Homo sapiens: one gene and its partners. The protein of the gene in region 1 purifies or fractionates together with the protein of each later gene. This does not show direct contact. Each region holds a gene or a part of one and is shown in the gene's direction. Other genes may lie near its edges. The genes, in order: DCAF6, CALN1, YAF2 and NR2E1.

Region 1 (7,027 bases):
TCTTATACATATAGGTATACTTATGCAAATATATCTTAGGATAAATTCTTAGAAGTGGAATGGCGCAGTCACTGGATAAGTACCTTTTAATTTTGGTAGTTGTTATCAGATTAGTCTCCAAAAAAGATGTGCTAATTTACATTCCCACTGAAAGTATAAGAATGCCCATTACCCCATAGTACGTTGGGTATTGTCAGACTTTGCAGTTTTTGCCTTTCTATTAGATATTAAGAGAAATGAAAACTCAGCCCAAGGGTTTTATATTAGCACATAAAATGTTTTCTATCAAGTGCCTTTGATAAGCATAAGAATCAACCCTGGGAGCTTTAAGATAGCACACTTGAAAATAGAATTAATCTATGAATTATAATTCTATATTATTATGTTTTATTAAATTGGTCTGTAACCAAAATCTTACTATAATGACTTCTGAAACATCTCTTGTGATCAAAAGCATATTCCCCAATATATGAGCTACATTATATAAAGGCAATAAAGTGTAAAAGAAACTCTGATTTCACAGAAAATGTAAGAAGAACCGATTTTCATTTTAAATTATAAGACTATAGAATAGAGTTGTCACATTTTGAATTTGACATTACACTTTTAATTTGAAAATACCCTTGGAAAAACTTGTTTACTTGCAGGAGGAAAAGGAGTGAGGGAAGAGACAAAATACTTTCTGGTTCCAGTTAATTTCAAATATCTGAAATTTGCTTACAGTAAATGATGTTGAAAATAAATTGACTTTAAGGAAACTTCATGCAAAAGCATAAGGCTATTTTGTGTCTGTACTTGATTATAATGCTTTAGGGAGAGGGAAAACCTTTCTTTTAATCTATTAAACTTAGAATTCATGAGCCTTTCTTGGCTGGGTACTCTTAGAACTAAAAATTTAGGTTGAGGTAGGAAGTGGGAGGTTTAGTGGTACCTAAGAATAGGCAAAGATGAAGGAGAGGTGAGCCCTGTTCTCAAGAAACCTTACCATACACATGGAAAGTCACTGATATAAACAATTACTATAAAATGTGATGAGAGCTCTAATAGATTTATATACATTCATACAATTTATTTAGGAAATTTGATTTTTAAAAATATGCTTTCATTTTAAAGCCCTTCAAATCTAGGTTTTTGTATTAATGAAAGATTCTGACTTATTACTAAACTCACTGATAAGACCTATATTGTAATAGGAGAGCAGAGTCCCAATGTGTCATTGATGCAGAGAATGTCTGATATGTTATCAAGATGGTTTGAAGAAGCAAGTGAGGTTGCACAAAGCAATAGAGGACGAGGAAGATCTCGACCCAGAGGTAATTTTTAATGTTAATTAAAGTCATCAGAAAGCTGGCAAAAACTACTTATTGAAGCCAGTTTTTATTTCTATCATGTAAATTATACCATGTTTTACATCTGTAATAATCACAAGGTTCTTATTGTGTGGTGTGAAGTAGTAGAGAATAAAAGATATTGGATATAATTTGTCCCTTCTGGTGCCATTGGACCTAGTGCGTATCTTTTGCTTTTCTCAAAGTAAAGTAGAAGAATCTGAGGTTTCCTATTTTAAGCCTTTTTTTAATGCACTCTGAGAATGGAAATATATAAAATTCTGTGTATAAACAAGTTTTATGTAATAGGAAAGATTGATTGCTTTAACAAGAATATGTTGTAGATAAGTTTTTATCCCTCTTGACTGGCCTATTTTGTCAAATGGGCCAAATCACCAGTAGTTATTATCACTGAAATTATATATTTGTGTGTGTAAATATAAATGTGTTTTCTGAGCATATCTGTTTAGAGTTGTTGGTTTTAGAAAATATTTAAAATTTGAATTTGCCTTAACATGTGTTTTGAAGGTGGAACAAGTCAATCAGATATTTCAACTCTTCCTACGGTCCCATCAAGTCCTGATTTGGAAGTGAGTGAAACTGCAATGGAAGTAGATACTCCAGCTGAACAATTTCTTCAGCCTTCTACATCCTCTACAATGTCAGCTCAGGCTCATTCGACATCATCTCCCACAGAAAGCCCTCATTCTACTCCTTTGCTATCTTCTCCAGACAGTGAACAAAGGCAGTCTGTTGAGGCATCTGGACACCACACACATCATCAGTCTGGTGAGGATAAGTATGCTGTGGTTCATCTAATGATTTTTGATAGTGAAAATTTCTTTACTGGCTATTTTGAAAGATACTAAATCACATCAACTTCTTGTTGGAATAAATGATCAAAATGACATGTAATATATGGTTATGTAACTTAAACACAAAAATTAATTATGTCTTACTTGCATGAATTTTAACAAATAGCAGGAATCTTCAATTTATATAAAACAATTGTTTTAAAAGTACAAGTACCAAAAGATAGTGTTTTGACATAGTTTAATGTGCCTGACTTAAATATTATTTTATAGATTATTAGAGACCAAAATATCTTTCTAGATTTATTTGGTTTTATGTCTATATTAAAGTGATTATGAAAATATCAGTATTAGTTTCACTTTGCTTATATTCTTGATTATTTCCCTCAAATAATGCAGTACTTTTAATATACTCTCTATGGTGGATTTGATATGGTCTTTTGTCAACAACATATAATTTACCAAAAAATTTGTTTCTCTAGTATTTACATGAAAAAGAATTATTTTACCAAATGCTTATCTTCTTGATACTTGATGCTAGTGAAAATAACCTCTACGTTCTGTTAAAATGCTATTTTTTTCTCAGTATTATAAGTCTTTATGGTCAACTTTTTTCCCCTAACTATGGAATGTGCTAGTATTTATAATAGTAATTTTCAGCAGATGTATCTACAGTTTACTCGGTACTTTAAACTATATACATGTAATTATAAAAACCAATAAGATATTTATTCATAGTTTTCTTTGGTTCTTCTAAGGAAGAATTTTACTCAATATAGAGCCAGAATTATTAGCAACTAGAAATATAGCTGGCAGGCCTAAGCTGAAACCTATAAAAAAATTTCTAACAGCTTAGCTGCCAAGCTGTCACTTTATTCTTACATCTCTGGAAACTGATGCCAGATTACCAAATATGGGATGTTTTAATTTAAGCACTCTTTTATCAGTATATACCACTTTTAGTAATTCATTTTCAGTTTCTATGGGAATAAAAGCCAGAGTCAGTTACATAACTGTTAACACTGTATACATTTTATCCATAATAATAAGCTAAAGCTGAGCTACAGAATCAAGGTTTTCACACTCAGTTGACATAGCATTTTAATTTATGGAAAAATAAAATATTTTGGAAGATTTGGGAATTAAAAGCAGAAGTAGTTAAAAGTTTGTTTTTCAAAGCAGGTAAAATTGGGAAAAGCAAGAATTTTTAAAGTGATATTCTTGAACATATTGATCAATTATAAGTTTTTAGGAAAACTTAGCAAGAAGACTCTAGCTTACATTCAGCTTCCACTGAATCTCAACTAATTCTAGTTGTTTCTTAAATATATTTATGAGTAAAGTATTTGGAACTTTATTTTTTAAAGCTATCTAATGCATTTTAATTACTGCATTTCAAATTGCTAAATTCCTTTCAATATTTAATGTAAGTATTAAATGTGACAATCATTTGAATTATTGAAGAAGAAAAAATATCTTTGGTGGTCATGTGATGATTATTGAAACATTATGCAGTACTTTTACTCATAAATTATTTATAGGAAGTAAGGAAATATTTTTAACTGGGAGATTATTGAGAGAATTTTGGTTGACTAAGCTATAGATAATTAGAATATTTCCATGTTATCAAGACATTATCACTATTGAGAAAAATGATTTGGTGTTAGATGTAACATCTGAAGGTTATGACTGTAGTTGTTCTGATAACAGCTTTTTCATTATTCTGGAGTTCAACGTTTCAGGAGTAAGGACTTAATTTGTTTCTGTTTTTGTTTTTTGTCCAATCTCTTTTGCATTTGCCATAGCCTAAGTCCAAATGTGTTTGTGAATATTGGGAATTGTCCATTGGGTGAATGTAGTAGATGGAAATGTCAGCTTAGGACCATGATTTCTATTATTTCCCTGCATAGAGATAGAGAAAATGATAAAGTATACTTCTGTCTATGCTTGCCTTGCTGTGGATACCTTTTTATGTAAATGTTTATCCCTTTACATGTCCTCCCTCATTTTTACTGATATCAAAGAAACGGACAATGGGAATATGAAAATTTGCTACGCTCCATCTCTGGTTGAACCTAATTGTCTGCCTTCTCTTAGTCTACAGTGGAATCACTGAATGATAATGAAGAAAGTTATGACCACAAATTTCAATGGGTGCTCAACACTGTGCATCAGAGCAGCCTCACACTGTTGCTCTCCAGCTGTACAAAATGACTATTTTACACTTTCATGTCTCTCAAACTTTAATACTTCCCTTCATCCCCGCCCCACTTCCAGATTCTAACCTTTCATTCACAATGAAAAGTACTCGTTTTCCTACTGTCAATAATTTCCCAGCTTTCCAACATCTGTACTCACATTGTGATAGAAGCAGAAAGCTCCTATCAAAAGCTAGTCAATGTAGTTGCTATCCCTTTCCAGCTTCTCAAAGATTTCGCCCCTTCTCTTGCATTATCATTGCCTTTTTTTGCCAAATTGTTTCTTTTGGCCTTAACATGCTCTTATTATCTCCTTTCTTTAAAAATTTTCTCTTAATTATCTCACATTCCCCTTCAGCTATTGCCTTATTTCTCTGCTGCTTTCGTAATGAGAATCCTCAGAAGAGTTGTTGATAGATGCTCTCTCCATTTTCTTGCCATCCTTCATTTATTTATTAACCAACCCCCATCTGCTTTTCAACCCCCTTTTCCTCTGAAACTTTTAATCAAAGTCACTAGTGACATTCACCAGTTTAAAGGATATTTCTCTGTTAGTACCTTACTAGATTTTTCGACCCGGTTGCATTTAACATAGGCTGTCACTCCTTCTTGAAACACTTTCCTTTCTTGGTATCTATGATATCATATTTGCCTATTTACTCTTATTAATTCTGGTGGGTTTTCAGTAACTGTTGTTCGTGTTTCTTGTTCTATCTCCTTCTGAATATTATAATCAAACCCCTTAGTTTGGGCTCTCTTCTCTTCTCTTTACATACACTCTTTCTCTGGGTGATTGTGTCAGTTCCTCATAGCTTTTAATATCTCCTGTAAATTCATGACTCACAAATATATATATCAGCAATCTGATCTTCTACCCTGAATTCCAGACCCTTATGCCTGATGTCTGACTGCTATTTTGACAGTATGTTTTTGTTATTGTTGTACATCTTTTTTTTTTTTTTTTTTTTTTTTTTTAAAGACAGTCTCACTCTGTCACCCAGGCTGGAGTGCAGTGCACAATCTCAGGTCACTGCAGCCTCCCCCTCCTGGGTTCAAGCAATTCTCCTGCCTCAGCCTCCCAAGTAGCTGGGATTACAGGTTCCTGCCACCACACCCAGCAAATTTTTGTATTTTTAGTAGAGATGGGGTTCCCCATGTTGGTCAGGCTGGTCTTGAACTCCTAACCTCAAGCAGTCCATCCGCCTCGGCCTCCCAAAATGCTGGGATTACAGGCATGAGCCACTGCACCCGGCCTATTGTTGTACGTCATAAATCTACATGTTCAAACTAAAACTTAATGCAGCCTCCTACCCTTCCTGTTCCGTAATTGGCTCCTTCTTGGTCCATTTGCTTATTTGAATAACCTGTGAGTTTTTCTTGATTCCTTCCTTTTCCTCAAGTCCCATGCCAGCTCATCAGCAAGTTCTTTTGTTCCTGTATCTAAACTATAACCTGGGTCTTTTCATCTCACCATCATTTCTTGTCTCCTAATTAATCTGCCTGTACCTACTGTTGTTCCATTATAATGTATTCTCCATGCAGGAGCCAGAATGAGTATTTTAACATGTTAAATCAGATTATATAACTTTGCTGTTTAAATCCCTTCAGAAGTTCCTAATTGCATTTGGAAATACAACTACAAAAGAAAAAAAAATCAAACTCCTCACTGTGGACGTATAAGAATTTATATGGCCTGCCCTTCCCTGTCTCTCTAGCCTCATCTCATTCAATTTTCTCAGTACTTGATGATTGTTACACTCTAGATGTACTACTGATTTCTTTCGGTTATCAGAGAATTTCCGTGCCAAATTCTGCCCTGCCCTGCCCTGCCCTCCCCCGCCCCACCCCGCCTCCACCCTGCCCCCACCCCCTCCCCTCCCCCCTCCCTCCCTCCCTTCCTCCCACTTGCTTGCTTTCTCTCTCTCTCTTTCTCTCTCTCTTTTCTTTCTTTTCTTCCTTCTTTTCTTTTCTCCTTCCTTCCTTTCTTTCTTTTTCTTCTTTTTAGACAGAGTCTTGCACTGTTGCCCAGGCTGGAGTGCAGTGGCGTGATCTCGGCTCACTGCAAGCTCTGCCTCCTGGGTTCACGCCATTCTCCTGCCTCAGCCTCCCAAGTAGCTGGGACTACAGGCGCCTGCCACCATGCCCGGCTAATTTTTTATACTTTTAGTAGAGACAGGGTTTCACCGTGTTGGCCACGATGGTCTCAATCTCCTGACCTTGTGATCCGCCCTCCTCGGCCTCCCAAAGTGCTGGGATTACAGGCGTGAGCCACTGTGCCCTGCCATTTTCTTTTCTTTCTCTTCTCTTCTCTTCTTCTTTCCTTCCTTCCTCCCTTCCTTCCTTCCTTCCTTCCTTCCTTCCTTCCTTCCTTCCTTTCTTTCTTTCTTTCTCTCTCTCTCTTTTGTTTCTTTCTGTCTCTCTCTCTTTCTTTCTTTCTGTCTCTCTCTCTTCCTTCCTCCCTCCCTCCCTTCCTTCACTTCTTCCCTCCCTTCCTTCCTTCCTTCTTTCCTCCATCCCTTCTTTCCTTCTCCTCTTTCTCCTTTTTCTCCTTTCCCATCTTTCTCTCTTTCCTGTCTTTTCTTTTCTTTCCCTCTTTCCTTCTTACACTTTGTTCTTAGTGTTATTCTCTGTATGCTTGGGAAGCCCTTGTCCTGGCTTATCACTTGGCCAACTTCCTTTTCCTTGAGTC
Region 2 (7,157 bases), on another chromosome or scaffold:
AAGCGCTGGGATTACAGCGTGAGCCACCGTGCCCAGCCGGGTTCCCGGCTTCACTCAGGAAACAATTTAAGGCTGAGCCAGTGGCAGAAGAAAACAGCTTTATTGAGGTAGCAGCATTACAGCTCTGTGACTACTCCTGCAGAGCAGGGGTACTCCATAGGCAGTGTGTGGAGAGCAGCAGCTCAGGGGCAGTGCTGCAGTCATATTTATACCCACTTCTAATTATATGCAAATTAAGGAGCAGGCTATTCAGAAATTGTTAGAAGAGGGGTGGTAACTTCTGGGTGTTGCCATGGCAATGGTAAACTGTCATGGCACTGGTGGGTGTGTCTCACGGAGAGGTGCTTCCAGGGCCTCTTCCCTATTTTAGCCAGTCTTCAGTCTGGTCTGGAGTCAAGTCCTGCCTCCCACCTCAACATCACAGGTGGAGACTGGAAAATGTCAAGGGTAGGGCGAAGGGAACGGTACAAGCATTGGTGATCAGCTTCAGAAGCAGACCCACAACCTTAAAAGAAATGGAGCCCAGGGCTGGGGCTGTTTGTTTTTGTCCTGCCTCTAGATGTGGGATCCTGGTCCCTGGGAACAGATCAGACTCAGGCACCTGGGTGGGCACTGGCCAAAGGAAGCCCTAGGTGAAGGAGCGTGGTGGTACCTGCAGGCGGTGTCACCGTCCAGTAGCGCAGTTCTATGCCCCCCGCGCCCCCCGTACCCTCACGGGCCTCTGCCCCACTGCCTGGGACCCTGCTGTCTTAGTCACCGCTCAGGCTTCCAGCATTTTCCCAGGAGGATCGACGAAACTGAGATTGTGAGTTGGTGGCTCACAGGCCTGGTTCAGCCCACAAACAGGTTTGTTGTTGTTTCTTCTTGTTTACTTGTGTGTTTGTTATTTCTTCTTGTGTTACTTGTGTGTTGGTTTTCTCCCAAAGTGTTTTGAAACTTAGAAGTTGTTGCCAGCATTTAAAAAATCAGCTGATTTATTAACAATCTGGATTTCCAGCTCCTCTTTAAATCATGACATCTGGCAATGCCGGGCCATACTCACTCATAGCAACAATGGATGGGTGATGAGTCGTGGCTACCGCCTTGCACAAAGGGAGCCACTTCCTCGTGGTCTTTGCCTCTTGGCATGACTGCTGGTCCCTGTAGGCATTTGAGCTGGCATGCCCCGTTTTATAAGAAGGAGAAAATACAGGTGCATCTGGAGTGGATGACACAATGGTATGAATTAGACCCAGGTGCTCCCACAGGGAGAAAGATCTAGGTACCTTGTAGTAGTCTGCTCAGGCTGCCATAACAAAATACCATAGACTAGCGGGTGGGGAGCTTAAACTATACCTTAACAGCTGTTATTTTCTCACAGCTATGGAGGCTGGAAGTCCAAGGTCAAAGTGCCAGCATGGTCAGGTTCTAGGGAGGACTCCTTTCCTGGCTTGCAGACAGCTGCCTTCTTGCTGTGTCCTCACATGGCAGAGATAGAGATCCCTCTCTTCCTCTTATAAAGCCACAGTCCAATTGGATTAGGGTTTCACCCTTAAAACCTCATTTAAAATGACCTCCCCAAACCCCTATCTTCAGATATAGTCACATTGGGGTTGAGGGCTTCAACGTAAGGATTTGGAGGAGGGACACAATTCACTCCATAGCATATGTGGAATTCAGGATATATATTTGGGGGCTGGGAAGGGAAATTAAATGACCAGTGGAGTCTTGGGCCATCCAAGCATGTCACAAAAATGGAAGGAAACCATTGCCATGAAATGGATGAACTTGGCAACAGAGAGGGGTACAGAGCTCATGTTCCCCCATCTACAGATACTGCTTCTCAGTCGTCCTGGGAGAAATACAGCTTATGGCAAATTCAGGACATCCTCCCTTCAAACATTTGCTTGAATTATCCAGACTGGGGGCCAACACTGGACTTCCAATCTCTGCTGTTCTGTAACGTCTCTGGGAAGTTCTGTGCTGCCATGCTAGTGTTAGGGTGGAGTGGGGAGTGAGTTCAGGGAGGCTGGTGTGAGGGTCTTGCCACCACCCATCCCAGGACCCCTGGTCTGGCATCAAGAAGGCACTGGCCTGCAAGAGAAGCTGTGTGACCCTGGGAAGCCACTCAGCCTCTCTGTCTCGCTCTACCCAATTGTGAACTAGGGGTTGATCAGGTCAGTTTCTTTTGTAGGTCACTCTTCATGTTGGTAGATAATTTTAAGCCCTGGTTAAGGACACTGCTCTGTAGTAGGTGCACAGAACGAAGGATTCGGCCCCAGGACTCAAGGAGGCCCATGGGCCTCTGGCTCCAGCATGGGTCTCTTGAGCTTCCCGCCAAACTCTAGGATCCTGGATCTTCCCACGGTCTGCCTCCAATGAGTGAATCCGTCTCATACCTCACTGCTCCTGCTTGGCGAGGGTGATGGGAAGATACGGTATTAGTGGGTAATTAAGTTATTAGCTGCCAAAGCTTAATTGCTCTCAGGAGTATTTTAATTGTAGCAGGGGACTCAAAAACAGAAAGCCTTGGAGACAGCAGACATCATGGAAACAGAAGGAAGGGGGAGTATATGTGAGGGTGCATGTATGGGAGTGCGGTGTGTACGTGTGTATGTATGTAAGAGTGTGTGTGTGCATGTGTATACGAGTGTGTGTGATGTGTGTGCATGTTTGTGTATGTGCCATGCATGTGAATGCATAAGTGGGAATGTTTGCGAGTGGTGCGTGTCTGTGTAGTGTGTTTGTTATGTGTATGTGTGTGCATATGTGCTGTGCGTGTGTGTATAAGTGTAAGTGTATATGTGTATGTGTAGTGTGAGTGTGAATGTATATGTGTATGAGTGTGTGCATAACTGTGAGTTTATATGCGTATGTGTAGTGAGAGTGTATATATGTATGTGTGCATGTGTTAGTGTGTATATGTATGAGTGTGTGTGTGGTGTGCATGAGTGCATGCATGTATGAGCTTGTGAGTGTGCGTGTTTATGAGTGTATCTGATGTGTGAGTTTGTGTCCTTATGTGAGCATGTGTGGTATGAGTATGCACGTGTGTCCATGTGTGGTATGTGAGTCTATGTGAGTGTACGTGTGTGTAAGAATGTGCATGTGTGGTGTGCATGTATGAGTATGTTCGTGGGTGTGTGTGGATGAGTGTATGTAAATGTATGTGTGGATGTGAGTGTATGTTAGTGTGTGTATGTATACGTGTGTGTGTACATGTGGTGTGTGTGTGCATGTGTGTGTGAATGTATATGTGTGTATGTGTGGTGTGTGTGAGTGTATATGTGTGTATGAGTGTGTGTGTGTGAGTGGGTGGGCACAAGTGTCAGTGTGTACATATGAGTGTATGTGTAAGCATGTAAGTGAGCATACGTGTAAGAGTGTATGTGTGCATATGTGTCTAACAGAACCTGCCTCTGTGATCTCTGCCAGGGCGTCCATCAGTGCAAACCCCCCGGGTGAGCCCAGGTCTGAAGGTGGCCACCAGCCACTGGCCTACTCCAGGTGGGCTTAGCGTGAGCCAGCACAGCCATCAGAGAACCTTCTCGGAGCTAGACCAGCTGCCCCAGGAGAAAGAGGGTAACCCTAAATATTATCCTACCAGGAAAGCCAGGCCTGGGGCTGTGGCCTCCATGGTCTGGGTGCTTCCTTTTGGAGGTGGGAGATGGATTCTCCAGGGAGAGCTGGGCCACCAGATATTTCTCTGTCCTGTGGCTTGACTGCTTCTAGAAACTTCCTGGGCTGAAAGCAAGGGACTTTGACAAGGGCTTGATTTGGAATGTGGGGCATTTTTATTGTTCCAGTTTGTTTTTCCCAAAGCAGGTTCCATGGGGGAAGGGTGAGGGGACAAGGGCTGGGGCTGCTCCTCCAGCAGTGGCCCCTGGGTGTGAGAGGTGAAGCCAGCTGGGCTTCTGGGTCAGTGGGGACTTGGAGAACTTTTCTGTCTAGCTAGAGGATTGTAAATGCACCAATCGGTGCTCTGTGTCTAGCTAGAGGATTGTAAATGCACCAGTCAGCATTCTGTAAAAATGGACCAATCAGCACTCTGTAAAATGGACCAATCAGCACTCTGTAAAATGGACCAATCAGCACTCTGTAAAATGGACCAATCAGCAGGACATGGGCAGGGCTGAATAAGAGAATAAAAGCTGGCTCCCCGAGCCCGCTGGGGAAGCTCGCTGGGGTGCTATCCGCTTGAGTTTGTGTTTTTTTCTTTCCTGCTTCTTAATAAAGCTTACTGCTTACTCTGGGTCCGCGCCACCTTTAAAGCTCACGGCCGCGGTCTGCGTCTTCGTTCTTGAAGTCAGCAAGACCGCAAGCCCACCGGGAGGAGCAGACGACTCCGGACGCGCCATCTTTAAGAGCTGTAACACTCACCGCGAGGTCCGTGGTTTTATTCTTAAAGTCGGCGAGACCAACAACCCAGCAGAAGGAATAAATTCCGCACACAGGTGGGCACAGAAACTAAAGAGCATGGTGGGCTCAGCTGCATGCAGTTCCCAGCTGGGCCAGGTTTGGGAGCCATCTGGGTACTTTCATAGTCTGGAGACAAGTTCCGGATTATGGTGGTGTTTTAATCTATGATTTTTTCTTTATCGGTTTATGATACCTCTCTAAAAGAGAGTTGCTTCATCAACTATTTGGTTATCCTGGAATATAATCTGTATGGAAAAAGCAGGACAATTGTTTGGTTCTTTTCTTATTACTTTAAAAGAGTAATTACTTTATTCCTTAGCAATTACATTCATGTCAATTTTCAGGATAATGAGTTGTACCATATTTGGTGATTGGCTGTGTCTTCCAGTTAGTTTCTCTGTCATTTGGCATCATTGAGAACTTATCCACTTTTAGGCCTGACAAGACTTTTCGTATTTCCTCCCATGGAGCTGATTACTTAGCCGGAAGTGGTATTTTGAGACTACAATTTGAGTGCTCATTGCCTGAGTTTTATTACCTTGACGTCTTTTCAGTGACACAACTGATACGTCCATATTTTTTTAAAGACAAAAATAAATTGAGTTCACAGTGATATTTTTATTCAAACTAGATTTCAGAGTTTTTACTTAACCTTAAAATTGTTATATTTACAGCTCTTTTCTCTAACATAGAAAATCTTGATTCCTAATGATGTTACATGAATCTCTTTTGTATGATTTCTTTGTGGTTCTTTTTGTCCTGAGACTTAGGTCTCACGTGGAAAGCTCAGTCAAAATATTATGTTCTAAAGTAACTTGAAAAAAACGGTTTTCTCTGTAGTTAAGCCATTAACTTGAAATACAGTTGTGTTTGCATGTTTCAGTTCATTTTCTATTTTAAGGAATTGCTTTGCTTTTTCCTTTTGATAGTTTTTTTCAAATCTGTAAAACCTTTATGTTTGCTCTTATAAATAGGCTCTGCTCATACATTATCTTCTGTTTCTACACATGTCCTGTTAAATTCTGTATGTTGGTCTTATTCTAATGCTTTACTAAATTCACCTATTATTTGTAATCGTTTTTTCATGAATTCTTTGGGATTTTCCATACATATAATCATATCACCTTAAAATAACTTTATTTCTTTTCCCATCTTATGCCTCTAATTGTCTAATCATGTTGGTTAATGCCTACAATACAGTGTTAATAGTAGCAGAGATAGTAAACATCCTTGTATTTTTTCTGATTTTAGCAATAAAGTTTCTAGTGCTTCTTGGAAAGTAAGAAGGTAGGGTGCTGGCTCGTGAGCTGATACGGAGGTGTGTGTATTTATGTTCAGGAAATATATATAGTTCCCTATTTTACTCTGATTTTCAATGTTAATTTAATTGTGAGCCGTTCATAGGGTCTTGGTTTTCATTTTGAAGAACCAGGGTTTAGGGTGTTTTGCTTATGCGAATTTAAGCCAGGACATGAAGGGACATTAGGGCTCCTGAGAAGTCTCACTTGCAGAAGAATTGAGCTGATTTGAAAAGCTCATTTCAGTTTTCAGATGTGGACTTAAAATTTTGGCTTTGCTTGTGTATATATTTTATTTCCGTGATATCTAATTGGTTTTGGGCAGAGATAGGGAGAAAACAACTTTGATTTTACATCATGTAGAAGGATTTCGCTTTTGCATCTTTCAAGGAATTCCATGGACATTTTCTACGTCCTAGATTGGCAGTTTTAGATTTCTTTTTTGTGCTTTTGAATACATCTTAGTAGTAAGATATTCAAAATGATGGCCAACAATCACCTTTGCAGAGTCAGTAACACAAGTGCAGTGATGAGACTTCATTGCTCATAAGCAGTTAAGTAGATTTGACAACCTCTCTTACATATTTAAGAGCTCCAGGCTCTCATGTTCCAGCAAATGCAGGGCTTAGCTTTGGGGCAGGCTGGAGCTCACACTCTGCCCTGTCGTCTTTTTTGTCAGCAACTCGTACCCCATTACACACCATATGGCATGACCCGCACAATGGAACATTTTGTCCAAAAGATATCTTCAAGAAAGAATTATGTTCAGTTATAACAAAAATAAATTCTTTTTGTGGGTTAAATGTGGTGCATCTTTGCAGGGTTTTAGAGGAAAGGACCAAGGGGAAAACCATTATCAAGCATTACAGGGAAAAAACTGATTATAATGTGGCCCTCAACAATTGTAAAATCTAGCAGAGACCACAAGATGCAAAAGAAAAGACTGTAACTTGATGCCCAACGTGGTTAAAAGGGAGGGAACGTTCCTTGGTGATTCTTTGAATTGGGTCTTCGAGTAACAGCCTGGGAACCACTGTTCCATGGGGTCCCAGAGGCTAAAAACCATTTAACCCATGCTTATGAATTATTTATGCCCATAAACAATGCAGGTTCATCCCTCTCCATTCCCAAACATTAGATTTTCAGCTCAATCTTGCTCCCAGTGATTGGAATTTTAGATACTTTGAAAGGGATCAAATCCATGAAAGACTTTGGTGTGCTGAGTCTGCTTGTAACCCATGCACCAGATTGGTTGCTGAAGGCCACAGACGCTGAAATAATGAGGTTGGCCAGTCCACTCAGACTATCCATATGCCTCCTTCCTCAGAGGCTGGCACAGAGATCCGTTTAAGATTATACTCTGCGCCAGCCTCTGAGGAAGGGAGGTATGTGGATACAGTCTGAGTGGACTGGCCAACCTCATCATTTCAGCCTCTGTGGCCTTCAGCAACCAATCTGGTG
Region 3 (7,027 bases), on another chromosome or scaffold:
TCTATAATAACTCCTCCTCCTGTTTTCTCTATCACAACACACAGTTTTTTTGTTTTTAATTTTTAGCGCATGAGGGCAGGGCCTATGTTTGTCTTGTTCATGGTTAATCTCCTTACCTAGTGCCTGACACATGTAAATGTGCAATAAAATTTATCAAACAAGTAGTTTCTTTTCTTTTTTTTTTTTTTTTTTGTTCCAGAAGACAGGGTCTCACTCTGTCACCCAGGGTGGAATGCAGTGGTGTGATCGTGGCTCACTGCAACCTCCACCTCCTGGGCTCAAGCGATTTTTCCACCTCAGCCTCCTACAGGCGCGTACCTTTACTGGCCAATTTCTGTATTTTTTTTGTAGAGATGGGTTTTCACTATGTTGCCCAGGCTGGCCTCGAACTCCTGGACTCAAATGATCTGCCTGCCTTGGCCTCCCAAAGTGCTGGGATTACAGGTGTGAGCCACCACGCTTGGTTGTAAACAGGTGGTTTTTTATAAAATCTTTCCTAGGTTAGATTTTTGGGCGTTTGTTAGCCAGAGTATCAACAGATTCACAATATGTATGGATTTAGTCCAGCCTTTTTTTTTTGATGAGATTTACCATATCGCTTCAATTTACCATATATTTTGGTGTTACTAAGCAGATTACTTCTTTTGAAATTTGAGTTATGCTGCCTCTTTTTAGTAAAGAATGTCATTGTTTTTAATACTCTTTTTCTTTCTTTCCTTTCTTTCATCTTACCTGTCCAACATGACAAAGCTAAATTATGATGAAGTTGATCAAGCTGAAAATATTATTCCTCTAATATTTAGCACATGGGATTTTTGTCAGTGGGGGTGGAAGGCAGACCGTAGTTGAAAATTGCATATATGAAGCCAACATGTATTGACCTCCTGCTCACACAGAAGGTCAGCCAGCTCCAAAAATATTTTGTCCTAATGCGTAATAAAATGTTCCCCCTTTTCTTACATTATAGTAAATCAACAGACTGCAAAACTTATACCTTCTATTTGGGCTATCTATGAAAGATACATAGGGATCCCCAAATTGGTGAATATCATATCTGACAAATACAGTCTAATCATGGCATATGTGAATAAGTAGATGATGGACTGTAGTTGGCCAGTGGCTAGACAGTAGTCATTTATTAACTAGGCAACCATTTTGTGCACATCAACTCCTTATCACAGAACCTTTGGCATTACTAAAAGTGTACTGTCAAAACCATGAGTGATAAATCTGTGAACATAAAAGGGTATATTTTATAAATGATACTCTGCCCTTTATTTCCTGAGTTAACTATTTCCTACCTCTAAAATTTCCTCCTATCCTGATTTTTCTCATCAAATAGAAAAGGGATCACAAACCTTAAGATACCTGGAGATAGAAGGGCTTTATTTTTAATAGGGCATGGAGTTGAGTGACTTACGATGTTGTAAAAAGATCATCATAAACTGTGTTCCTCCTACCTTCAGTGAAAGCTCTTTAGCTCCTAGAGAGCAGCAGAGAACTTTATTTGAATAATTGAACTATATACATTTATGTTTTGTGCTTCTTTTCTCTCAGAATTGAACCAGATGAAATAATCATAGAATTGAGGTACAAAATCATAATCTTTAAGTGAAAATCAACCTTCACATTAAAATAAGAATAAAAATGGAATAGTTGTGTAGTATACATTTAGGTAAGCCTAGGATAAAAAGAGAAAGATATGCAACTACTCAAGAACAGAAAAAAAGAACCACTATAGAAAATTTGTTGATGGTTAGAAAATAACAACAAACAACACTAGGTACAGAGATTACATGATCATTTATTAGACCACTAGTCTCACATTTTTACTTCTACTGTAGTGTAGTACCTTTCTATTTCAGACTAATGCCAGTAATCTTTGTAAAATTCAAGTCTGAATTTCTTCAGTGACTTATCATCACTTAAGGATAAAATCAGACTGCTTAGCTTTTAATCATGGGATCCCTTCTTATCTGTCCAGCTTGGTTTTTTTTCACTCTGCCACTCTGCTCTCCATCTCAAACTTTATCTTATAGTAGTAACAGTATTCACCAGATATATTGCATTTCCTCAAGCTTTTTTTTAAAGTGTGGTCCCCAGAGACATCAGCATAACTTGGAAACTAGTTAGAAATACAGTTTCTTGGGCTCTACTTCAAGGCCTACTGAATCAGAAATCCTGCGGGGTAGGGCTAAGCAAGCTAAACAAGCCTTCTTGGTGATTCTGATGTACCTTATATTTGAAAACCACCACCTTAACCCTTTTCTTTTTTAACCTCAGCCATTAACTACCATACTTTCAATATCACTTTTATTTGTGCAACTCTTAATCTACATCTCAAACTCTATGTCAGTCCTATTTTTTAAGTTGTATATTGGACATCTGTCCTGGATATCCTTTCAGTAGTTCAGACTGTCTAGGCCCTGAGCAAAATTCATTATCCATCTCCTGATATCTGCTTTACATACTGTTTCCTATTTTCTCTCAGCCATGCAGCTTTAATTCTTAGATTGTACAATATTTTCTCATTATTTTTTATGTTGTCTTGCCATAGAGGAACAGGAGAAAAAAAGATTTTTTAAAAACTGTACTAACCAAAAAAGGGTGAGGATTTTTCAGGCAATAAAGTTACCATTGTTTGTAGAGCATCTGTTAAAATGTATTTTTATCTTACTTCTTCCCTCCTTCCCTCTGCCTCTTTCCTTGCTATATCCTTCTTTCTCTCTTAAGAACTTAGAGACTGTATTTTGAACCTTAACCTCAGTTGTGCAAGTTCTGTGGCAAAGCTGGACAGGTGAAAGCTTGTACCAGCATCAGATGTTGAAGCCAGGCAACATTTCAGATATCCCTGAACAGTTCTTACAGTAGGTCCTCAATAAATATTTTCTAAATGAGTAAGTTAGCAAGTAGATGAGTCTCAAAAGACTGGGCAGATCTCCAGGGTCAAAAGAGCATGGTGAGATTGTGGCTGGAGATGTAAGAAACTTAAAGGATTTAAGCAATAAGGAGTGAGAAATTTTGATAATAAATGTTTATTAAATGAATAAATGAAAAGCTTTAAAGAACAGATAGCCATTGTCACAAATGGTCAGGTATTTCCTTCTCTGAAGGAGGGATAAATTATTATTTCAGTGAAAACTTTGAAGTTTGATTTTTAGAACTCATGTTTATATGGGTACATCCCATTTTTTTTGATATACATTTAAAATAATTTCTTATGTTGATTTACGTAACAGTATTCTAATGTTTGAGCATATATCTTAGACTATAAATTTTAATTGTTATAGTTTGTTCCATTTTTGTTGAACGGGAAAAACTGATACATATCTTTAAAATTGTATATTTAAATTACCTTACATATGAGGAATTTTTATACTTGAAAGTTATTGTTATTAACTTGTTTTCATAATGTGAGATATTCTGTCATAAAGCACTTATGTTTTAAGTTGTAATTTAAAATACCTTTCTTTTTAACATGCACACAGGAAACCTCGACCTGTCTCCCAGTTGGTTGCACAGCAGGTTACTCAGCAGTTTGTGCCTCCTACACAGTCAAAGAAAGAGAAAAAAGATAAAGTAGAAAAAGAAAAAAGTGAAAAGGAAACAACTAGCAAAAAGAATAGCCATAAGAAAACCAGGTAAATGTGAAGAGTGTTTTATGACATTTTTGAAATAATAAAACCATTTAATTTTTTTAACCTTGACATACTAATATACACAAAGTGGAAGTAAAATATTTGGTCTCCTTTATTATAAGGTATCAGGAAAGGTTTTACTGAGTTTGAAAGATACATAGGAAATTAAACACAGAAGCCAGAAATACAAGCTTAAATGTGATGATGCTTTTTTCTTTTTACGAGATTGGAAGACATTTGTGTCTGGATTTGTTTTGTTTTGTTTTGTTTTTCCCTTAAGAAGAGCTATTTGAACCAGGAGTGGTTTTCAACATACCGAACAGATAATTGCATGGGTTTTAACCTATCAAAATGGTCATGCGTTCAGTCATAACAATCATGATACCCTTATTAGTGTGTGTCAGTGGAGTAACAGTCTTCCTTGCATATAGCTCAACCTTAGCTTTTATCACCTTCCTCCATGGTGCAACTATTTCATTGTTGTCTAAAACATCTATTTTAATAAAATTAATAAGCTGTCTGCAAAATTATGATACAGCTATAGAAGCACAAGTTCTACTTCTAGGCTGTCACAGTTTTTTGGTTGCATTGAAGAATGTTCATGAATGATTGGTTTGATTAATGTTAATGAGTTGAAACATTTTATGATGTTTTTGTGGCTAGTTACACATAAATTGCCTTAAATACATGTATTCATTTTGTTACTTTTACCACTTTTATTATTTATTATATGCTCAGAAATTTGGTAGAGGGAAAAGCTAGTTTAAAATTTCATTTTTTTATGTTTAGGCCAAGATTGAAAAATGTGGATCGGAGTAGTGCTCAGCATTTGGAAGTTACTGTTGGAGATCTGACAGTCATTATTACAGACTTTAAGGAGAAAACAAAGTCACCGCCTGCATCTAGTGCTGCTTCTGCAGATCAACACAGTCAAAGCGGCTCTAGCTCTGATAACACAGAGAGAGGAATGTCCAGGTCATCTTCACCCAGAGGAGAAGCCTCATCATTGAATGGAGAATCTCATTAAAGTTTATTTTCTCCAATTTCTTAGTCACTTCTGTCCTACCATGCAAATACACAGATTATGCCAAGAGGTACCACATTTTCATGACAGATACATTCATGCACAATCCATAATTTGAGTTTTACATAAAATAGAAATTTGTTAGAATTTGTTAGATTTTATTGCAATGATGCCTACCAAACATTTCCAGACTTAACATTTTGGTCTCTGCAGTTAAGTGCCATGAAAATGTGGTTGAATTATTCATTATGCAGTGTTATTGGTAAGTGTATTTTCACTTTTAGTTTAGTGAATTCTAACACATAATTCTTGAATTCTCTACTATTGGCATGTAACGAATTTAAATTTTTTATAACATAGTGCAAGCTGCCTAAATATGTATTATTTGAGAATTGTGAAACAGATAGTTATATGTATACAAGTCAAAGAACAACTTAACTATTGCTGCAACAGGTTTTTCTTAATGGTTATCCTCTTAAATACACCTGCTGGTACTTGGTGTGGTTAAATAGGAAAATTGTTATTAAATAAAGAATTTGTATGAACCTTTGCCAATGTTTTTGACACGTTTTACTAATTATTGTTCCTGAATTATGTTTCTGGTTTTATCTATTTTTTGAGGTTTTTTTGTTTGCTTATTTTTCAAAACATTCATTTATTGTAATGTTTACTAGCGGACTAGTAAACAATAAAACATTGATTATTTAGCTTTATAATTCAGGTTTAGTGCTATTGTCATTGAACACTGGTATTTTCTGTATCATATAAAACATTAAAATTCAAATAATTATAAGCATTTGGCAAAAACAAGAGAAAAGAAACTTGCCATATTTTACAAGCTGCAATTTTAGAAAAGCTTTAACTTAATGATAGTTTTATCATTGTTTTCTTGTCCCAAACTTATCCAGGGCCATAGAAGTATGAATCTAATTAAAACAGAAATGGGAATTATTGCACAGAAATGGGAAATAACTAATTTTAAATCAGTCAAATTGGCTTCTTATTAAATACAATAATTCTTATGAAAATCATAGTACCCTATTTTCAGACACAGCTGCCAGTTTACACATTTCTCAGTATCCTGAAAGGAAAAAAGTATAGCCCCACTTATACTATGTAAAATTACCAATAAAATATTTTTATGACTACAGATTTTGCATTTTTGTTTACAACTATTTAAAGAGTTTTATGTTGTATTTAGAATTTCAACCTAGAAACCACACAGTACTTAAATTCTCCTGGGGTCTCCTGCTTTCTCTTAACCATTTGCTTAATATATATCTACCTAAAGGAGACTTCTGAATTGTAAATGAACTTAAAAATAGAATGTGGATGCAAAATATCACATAAGACATCATGATAACATTTGAAGAAAAAATAAAACTGTAGACCCTAACAGTTGTGATATTTGGTGGTTTCATGTGGTAATGTAATTTTCTGTTTAATTACAGTACTTTTTACAGGCACAGTGGTACTGTCTTTTTTGTAAGATGCTAGTTGTGAAATACAATTAATTGCATACAGTAAAAGTCTGTGATTAAAACATTTATATACCTCATTCTTTAGTGTTGTTAAATGAAAAATTAAAATTTGTGTTTATTATAAGATACTTTCAATGGAATACCAGCTAACCAGATATGTTCCTTTAAAACATGAATTTTTTTGTCTTATTCTGTTTTTAACATGTTTCAAATGTTTTATACATTTTTGGAGATAGTAAAAATTTAAAAATGTAATAGGGAAAATATTTAATTTTTAAGTCAAAAACTATGCTTTAAAGGAATTACATCTTATGATCAAATAACTTTCAGGATGTATTTTAAATGAGCTGCAAGAGAGAAAAATCTGACAGGAGATGGGATTTTACCTGAATGGAGCATACTCATATTTCTACATAGGTGGGAAGATACTCATCTTTCTACATAGACGGGAACACGGTGTAGCATGGAGATTAAGCGTGCTAACTGACACCTCATGTTTGAATCCTGTTGTAGAATGGAAATGAGCTTAAATTACCCAAGCTTACTTTCCATCTATAAAACAGGGCTAATAATGGTAATCACATCTAATTTATAGGGTTTTTGGGAGGATTAAGTCAATCCGTGTAAAATTCTTAATTATCTGACACATACTGGTCACTCAGTAAATGTGAGCTTTTACCATTGTTATAGGTAAAATCCCATTACAAAAATACAAAAATATTTTTTGTAACAGTTATTTTCCTGCCCTCTTGGATGACCTAAAGTAATAGTGTTTTATAGATTTCACTAAATTTTCAGTGTAATATCAGATGTTTTCTCTGGATGCAGAAAGACCATCTTTCCATAATTAAAGAACCTGGTGGGTGTGCACTATGAGATTGGAG
Region 4 (7,027 bases), on another chromosome or scaffold:
TTTTCCAGCTTCAGGAAACTCCGGCTCGCCTCACGTCGGAGCTCGCTCGGCTTGCTAAATGAGAGGAGCTTTGCAACGGGGTCAACCAGCTTGTCTCGTGACCCCAAGTCACCTTAACGTGGCTGGGTGGCGGAGTCTGAGGCACAGGCCCGCTATGCCCCGGAATTTTCGCGTCCCTCCCTCCTGGGCCCCGCCCCAGCCCGGTTGCCTGTTTCTAATCTGCCCCGGGAGCCGCGGCTCAGAGGTCTGCTCAGAGGCAGGACTCGCACTGGTGGTGGCCTAGAGGGCAACAGTCCGGAAGCTCGGGCGGGGGAATCCGAGGAGGGGCCCCCACCCTGCACTGGTCTTCCCTCCACCCTCATCGGGTTCTCCAGAGATGTTGTCATGGGCCTCCTGTCCGGATGGGAAGTGGGGAAAAAGAGACCCCACCACTGCTCCTCCCACTCACTCATCTTGGCATCTTCAACAGTGCCACAGGGAAGAGGACAGCTGGGGTGACAGTACTGCTGGGCCCCAAACGTGGACCCTGGAGCGGTCAGAGGGCGCGTGTTAAGCAGAGGATGGTTGTAAGATATGGAAACCAAGTTTACCGCTTCCAGAGTGAGTGCAGTGCAGCGGAGCTCCAGACCCGGTTCCTGAGCGACCAGGAACTCCCTTGGGCGCAGTGACAGGCCCGAAGGAGTGGAGGACAAGACCCGCTGTGCCCTTGCCTGGCCCTCTCCAGCCCCTCCCTCCCACAGCACAATCTCCCCTCCCGCCCTGTGGGAGGGGGGCGCCGAGCCGGTGGCCGCCGCGCCGCGCGCCTCCCCTGCCCGCCTTTGTCGCCGTCCGAATTCCCATGCTACTCTTTTTGACGGGTCACTGGTGGCTCTATAGGCAGGTGCTGCCGCGGGGTTGTAATTACCCGGCCGAGCCTGGTCGTTACCGAACACCCCCTCACCCCCAAGCACGGTCCCCCGCGCTCTCCTTCCCCCACCCCCTCCACCTGAGACGAGTCTGGGACCCACGGTGCAAGCTCGCCCGGACGCCTCGGGTTCCAGGAGCAAGTTTACACCTGCGGTGCCTCGAGGCCCTCCCCGCGCCACGCCCTCACCTCCCCTACTCCCCTCGCCCAGACGTTCCACTGCCGCCCCTTCCCACCTCAATCCCATCGTAGTCCCCAACCCAAGCGCTTTCGGCAGCAGCTGTCGAATTTCAGGGAGGCCTGAGGCCGCTGGGGCCCAAACTGGAGGCCTTCGGATAGGTAGAAGAAGAGAAAAGCAAGTGTTAATAAGTCAATTGTTATCAACTATTGTTATTTTTAAAATTAAAGTGTTAATTAAGTTAACAGTTTAATACTCCCTTTGTTTTGCGGGAGGAAGCATTTCTAAGTCCCTATAAACCGCTTCAGGCACTTGTTGGACTCTTGAACCTTAGAGGAAAAGAATCCCTCCCTTTCTAAACGGCCAAATATTACCCTCTCCCTGACACTCCTCCAGGGTCGGTGGCCACCCCAGGCTTGAGGGGATTCCAGGGAAAGTTCTCTTGAGGTGGGGTCCATGGGGGGTGGGGGGATACAGCCTAGAGAAATCAGTCAGATTCTTAATTTAAAAAAAAATCAGGCTCAAAGAGCACTGGAAAAAACCGGGAGGAAGAGATCCACACAGGACCAAGTGTGTGGAGGCCAGTCTTCTAGGGAGAAAGGGCTTAGGAAATGGAGGGAGCCTGTCCCAAGCTAACCCGACAGGGAACCGACAACTTGCGTCGCTCCCCTCTCCCTTGCCTAGTCCCGAACCACTTTGCGGAGAAAATAATTTTTTCCTAAAAGAAATAATTTCTCTAAAGCGACTCACCAAGCATTTTTTAAATAGGTAAAGCGAAAGTTGGCCAATTACCACTACCCTTATTATCATTAATAATCCAAGTATTAGCATTACAATAATAATCCTAATAATAACACCGCCCGGCGGAGCTCAGAGAAAACTCGATTGCCTTCCAGCTGCCATCCCTGGTTCCAGCCGTGTTTGTTTTTCTTCTTTTCCCTTTTACATTTCAAGTTTGTCTCCTCGCGCGCTCACTAACAACTTTCTCTGTTAAATGCAAAAGCGAAGGAGGGAGGCGGCCAAACTTTCCGCGGAGCAGAAAGGCAGTGGAGGGCCGCACTGCCGCCCGGGCCTGCTGTCATCTTTTATTCCAAAATGGGTCTCGGCGATTAGAAGAGAACCAAATACATGTAGCGGTGCATGAATAATGCTCATTGTAGGAAACTGACACTTGCTCAAGGAAAAAAAGTTTGGGTATAAAATCACTTCATTATTTGCTTTTACCGCAGCTTCGGTGCTAATCCCTTCAGAGGTCAGATTGCTTAGCATCTCTCTCTCCCTCTCCCCTTTTCTCCCTCTTCTCCGCCCTCCTTTCCCTCTCGCCCCTTCCCCCCTTCCCCGTCTTTCCTGCGATTTCAGGCCGCATTTTAGATATCCCCTGCAAAGTGTGTGGCGACCGCAGCTCGGGGAAGCACTACGGGGTCTACGCCTGCGACGGCTGCTCAGGTTTTTTCAAACGGAGCATCCGAAGGAATAGGACCTATGTCTGCAAATCTGGAAACCAGGTACCTTAGCCAGGGCTGCACTGCTGGGCTCCGCTCTGCTGCCTCCTCACTCTTTTGTTTGTGCCAAGGCCTCCTCTGAGTTTCCACGCAGTTGAGGAGAGACCCGGCCCTGACCTCTCCCTTCCTCTCCCCTCCTTCTTGCCTCAACTCTTGGAGGCCCTTTGGCTGGGGAAAGGCGGGAAGAGGTAAGGGAAGATATGAGTTTACAGGAGGGAGTCTGAAGTCCTAGAGCCTCCCTACACTTTTTTAAATTATTATTATTCTGAAAGATTTTGACACTGGGTAAGGCCCACACCCTGTGGCTCTAAAGCCGGCCCAAGGGACCTAAAGAATTTAGCATCTAAACCACAAGTAGCAAGCAGGAGAAAGAGCTTTGTTATTGTGCCTGCCCACCCCACACTCACTCCTAGCAGCATCAAGCTCAGTCCCCTGATCACTTGCCTGGGATGCAGAAGTAAGCGGCACACAGACATCTGAGTCAAGGTCACCACCACCTTTAGCTGAGACCACCAAGTGAGTGCTAGCCACTTGGAAGAGAGGCCGTGCTTTCTGAAGGGTTGTGCATTTTCAACTCTGGAGAAGCAGGGCTGCTCTGGAAGTGGGCAGTGGGAATCCAGCACCCATGTGACCTTAGCTATGCCTTGTCAGAAAAGGGCAGGGTGAGGAAGAAGAGAAGATTCAAAAGGAAGGTGCAACTGGGACCCTCCTCAAGCTTCCATATCCCTGTCCTCCTTCTCTGCTTAGAATTTGGGCCCAGTCGGTTGTTTTGGTCTTGAGTAGGCAGAACTGTCTCAAAGAGACAGAGGAATCTGGCATGGGCTGAATATGAGCCAAAGCTTCTAGAAAGAGTGAGCAGAACCTCTTGACTCAGTTTCCAGCTCAATAATAGGCTGATTTTAACTAAGGAGATCAACCTTCTGGTCCTACACTTTGCCCTCTCCTTATCAGCGACTCAGACCCTCAGTACAGAGTCCTCCATTTCACTTGTGGAAAGATCCCTGAGGGTGCATTAGTCAGCAGTCATCCTTTGGTAACAAAATAGTAAAACACTTTTCACTAATTGATATATATAGGGTACATGTATACACATGCATATATTGTCTGCTGCTAGTGAATTGTTCTGACATCTTTTTCTGAAGTCATGTCTGCTCATATTGTTTTCTAATAGTTTTGGATTAACCACAAAAACAGAAGATATTTGCATTGAGATAAATTTTGAGCTCTCTAGCCCTGTTACCTGTTTAATTGGCTACTGTATCAGTTTCTAGCTTCACCATATGGACACATCACATTTTACACGCATAGGACTGTATCCCAATAACTCCACAGGATTGTGCGATTACTGCGGGTTGTCAGATTTGAACCAACTTCTACTTAGATTGTCTTTTGCTTTTATGCAGTGAACAGAATTGGAAAATCAAGATCTCTGATGTTGTGCTTGATCTTTTAGAAGGGGATGGCTATCAATTCAAGCATATTGATATCAGTCCAAGTGCTTGTAAAGGACTGATAATAGACTCATCAGGCCTGGTGTTCTTCTTGCAAGGAGAGTAAATGATCAGAGCTGAGGCGTTTATCCTTCTCTCTGGCGCTAGATATTTATATACATTTGATCTGATTTGAAGACACACTTAAGAACTTATGAAGGTTTCCATTTTGCATTTGCATACTTATAAGAATACTGGAAAGATACCATCTGAGGATAGATATATAATTACATTTAATAACAAGTTTTAAAAAACCTGTTTACAATGAACTATTACATTGGCCAGCAAAGATGCCCTAAATAATTCACTTTGGACCCAAAAATTATCTCCTTTCTCTCTTATTCTAGGATTAAATTATATTCCAATTTATTATTAACAGTAATGAGGACATTTAGAAATGGATATGAACATCTGTCCCACCTTTATTTTAAATAAATCATCATAATTTAAATTGGAGAAGTGTGAACTCATAAAACTGCATTCGAATGTGTAATTTTCCCCTAAAGGGCTTCAGGGGGAAGAAAAACATACTTACTCCAACTCCAGAGTATATGAATTTTTGAGATTATGAAGCAAAATAAAAATACATTTATTATCTTTCTTCTCACTACAAATCTAACAGTAGCAACTTCTATAAATATAGGAGAGCACACAATGTCTTAAATATTTTCTGTGTATAAAACTCATGCACATGACTCTTTATGTATCTATGCATATGTCCCCTCGGTAATGACATCTAACACTGAATAAATTCCAAAGGAAACTTTATCTGTAGATTTCCTCTTTCAATGGCTAATGTTTTTACAGAAAATTGCATTAGGTAAACATCTAATTTCTCATGCATCTCAGATAAATATTTCTAAAGAAGTGACTACCTTTATTTTTTCAGTTACTATGCTAACAGTCTGAGCCCATATTATCATTTAGTCTGACAGTCCATCACATTACCTTCCTGGTCCTGTTTACATGGTGAGCATTTCTATATTTTGCTCAAGACTTGAGCTCTTCCTTTTTCACCCTCATCTTCTCTAGGCCTTGCCCTCCTAAACTCTCACCTTCCAGGAAGGGCTGTGTTTCTATGCACCTGGGCCGAGGCTAGTCTTTAAGGCAACTCTCAACTTGCTGATAATAAGGTTGGCTTCATACAAAAGCAAAAGTGAGGTAATAGGAGAGTGAAGAATAAATGGGAGAGATTTATCTGATAGATAAACGGGCTCTCCCAGAAAGTGGCAGAAAGAGGTAGACTCAAGTACTGAAAGCAGAAAGAATCGTTGGTGGGAGGGCGGTATGGTGTGAATCCTGACCCAAAAGCCAGCTCTTAACGGAAGGAACTTAGTGGCCTCTTTCTCTGGGGCCAAGTCGCTGTCTTCGGTCCTGAAGTCTCGTCCCTGTTCCACCACTCCGCGACTGGCGGAAGTTCCCCTAGCGAGAGCCCCGCAGGCCTGCGGGGTCTGCCAAACCCGGCTCTCTAAGCTTCACCTGCTTGGAGAAGGACGTTTCCCCCTTGTCCGCTTTCTTGGGGTCCGGGACTGGCCCTCTTGAAGTAGCCTGGGACGTCCCAGCCCCTTCTCGATCTGGCCCTGCTCATGCCCAAGGCCCTCGCGTTTTGCAGGCCCAGGCTCGGGGCTCCAGGGCCTGCGGCCGGGCAAGGTCGCGCCTCCACACCGTTTCCCCGCCCGGGTGCCGGCTCCGGGTCTCCAGCCTAAAGGCCCTGGGGACCGCTGACCTCCTGCTCTCTGTTCCAGGGAGGCTGTCCGGTGGACAAGACGCACAGAAACCAGTGCAGGGCGTGTCGGCTGAAGAAGTGTTTGGAAGTCAACATGAACAAAGACGGTAATCAGTGCATCCCTTTATTCCAATGTTGATTGAGTAGTAAGTAAATTATATGTACAGAAAATACATGGCACTCCTATGCATGTAAATCAACCCCGGAGCGCTTCTTTCCAGATGCTGGGAATTGGCCTCGGGCTTTCAGTCGTATCCTTCCCGTCTTTCAGCAGGAGCCGCTGGCGACCCCTAGAATTCCCCAGGGCAAGACCCATGCCCACATCAGGAACTTGCGCCCCACAGTCATCTCCACACAGGCAGCGCTTGGGGGGACCCCACTCTCCAGGGGACCGGCGCGCATTTTCTGCCTCCGGTCCTAATCCCTCTTTGCAGCCCTTCGTGGCCACCCTTAAGCCTGCTAGCCTGCCCCAGGATCTTAAAATCTGGATAGTCTCACGGGGAGGAGATCATACAGGCTGGAAGTTCGCGGTGTGTTGAAAAAGGGAGGGCAGAGACGCGAAAACGCGGAATTTCCAGCCCGTGTGCAAATTCTCCAAGATGCCAAAATCAGTACGGCCATTGGGCCGATGTGAGTCCAGGGCCTTCTCTCTGTTCTACAGAAAAGAGGGAAAGGGGGCTGGAGAGGCAGGGTAACGCCCGTGGGTGCCTCGGACACCCAGCTCTCCCAAGGCTCTTAAGCGCGCAACAGCAAGAACCAGGACGTCAGAGTGCTTCCTGGGCCTGGAGCACGGTCCGAGCTGCGTCCCCCGCTGCAGCCTGTCGAGGGCGCCCCAGGCCCAGGCAGGGGGCGAGGGTAATGGGCTGGAGGACACCGTGGGGCCTGGGAACAGGGTGCGAGTGGGTTTTGCTGTGAGGCGGCCCGGGCCGGGTGGCAGCTCCAGGAGGAGAGAGAGCCCCTTCCTCTGCGGCGCAGGAAGCCGGAGGGAGCGTCCAACCTGTTGAACTTGTGTATTGACAAGTTGTCAAGCTCGGCAGGCCGAAGATTGCCCTGAATTAATTTGTTTGTTTAAACTGTTGGTGGTAATTGTCACATCTCCCCTGCCTTTCTCCAGCATACTCGGAGACGGGTTCTCCCTCGTTCCATTCCCTAGCAATCCCGGGGCTCGGGTCCTTTCCTCCTGCGGCCCTCGGAGGCCAAAAGCTATTTCTGTGGGGGCGGGGCCTG

Evidence for each region.
Region 2: the proteins of DCAF6 (region 1) and CALN1 purify together in Homo sapiens (affinity purification with mass spectrometry; 3 studies listed by BioGRID and IntAct, with this or other methods). This does not show direct contact.
Region 3: the proteins of DCAF6 (region 1) and YAF2 purify together in Homo sapiens (affinity purification with mass spectrometry; 3 studies listed by BioGRID and IntAct, with this or other methods). This does not show direct contact.
Region 4: the proteins of DCAF6 (region 1) and NR2E1 purify together in Homo sapiens (affinity purification with mass spectrometry; 4 studies listed by BioGRID and IntAct, with this or other methods). This does not show direct contact.

What each region holds. Positions count from the first base shown.
Region 1 is NC_000001.11:168,002,677-168,009,703, forward strand, and holds part of DCAF6 (DDB1- and CUL4-associated factor 6), read left to right. Parts: intron 1-1,193; coding exon 1,194-1,313; intron 1,314-1,856; coding exon 1,857-2,117; intron 2,118-7,027. UniProt on the Homo sapiens protein: Ligand-dependent coactivator of nuclear receptors. Enhance transcriptional activity of the nuclear receptors NR3C1 and AR. May function as a substrate receptor for CUL4-DDB1 E3 ubiquitin-protein ligase complex.
Region 2 is NC_000007.14:72,409,334-72,416,490, reverse strand, and holds the start of CALN1 (calcium-binding protein 8), read left to right. Parts: upstream 1-4,152; 5' UTR 4,153-4,433; intron 4,434-7,157. UniProt on the Homo sapiens protein: Negatively regulates Golgi-to-plasma membrane trafficking by interacting with PI4KB and inhibiting its activity. May play a role in the physiology of neurons and is potentially important in memory and learning.
Region 3 is NC_000012.12:42,158,227-42,165,253, reverse strand, and holds part of YAF2 (YY1-associated factor 2), read left to right. Parts: intron 1-3,488; coding exon 3,489-3,641; intron 3,642-4,427; coding exon 4,428-4,665; 3' UTR 4,666-7,027. UniProt on the Homo sapiens protein: Binds to MYC and inhibits MYC-mediated transactivation. Also binds to MYCN and enhances MYCN-dependent transcriptional activation. Increases calpain 2-mediated proteolysis of YY1 in vitro.
Region 4 is NC_000006.12:108,169,017-108,176,043, forward strand, and holds part of NR2E1 (nuclear receptor subfamily 2 group E member 1), read left to right. Parts: intron 1-2,441; coding exon 2,442-2,587; intron 2,588-5,819; coding exon 5,820-5,907; intron 5,908-7,027. UniProt on the Homo sapiens protein: Orphan receptor that binds DNA as a monomer to hormone response elements (HRE) containing an extended core motif half-site sequence 5'-AAGGTCA-3' in which the 5' flanking nucleotides participate in determining receptor specificity.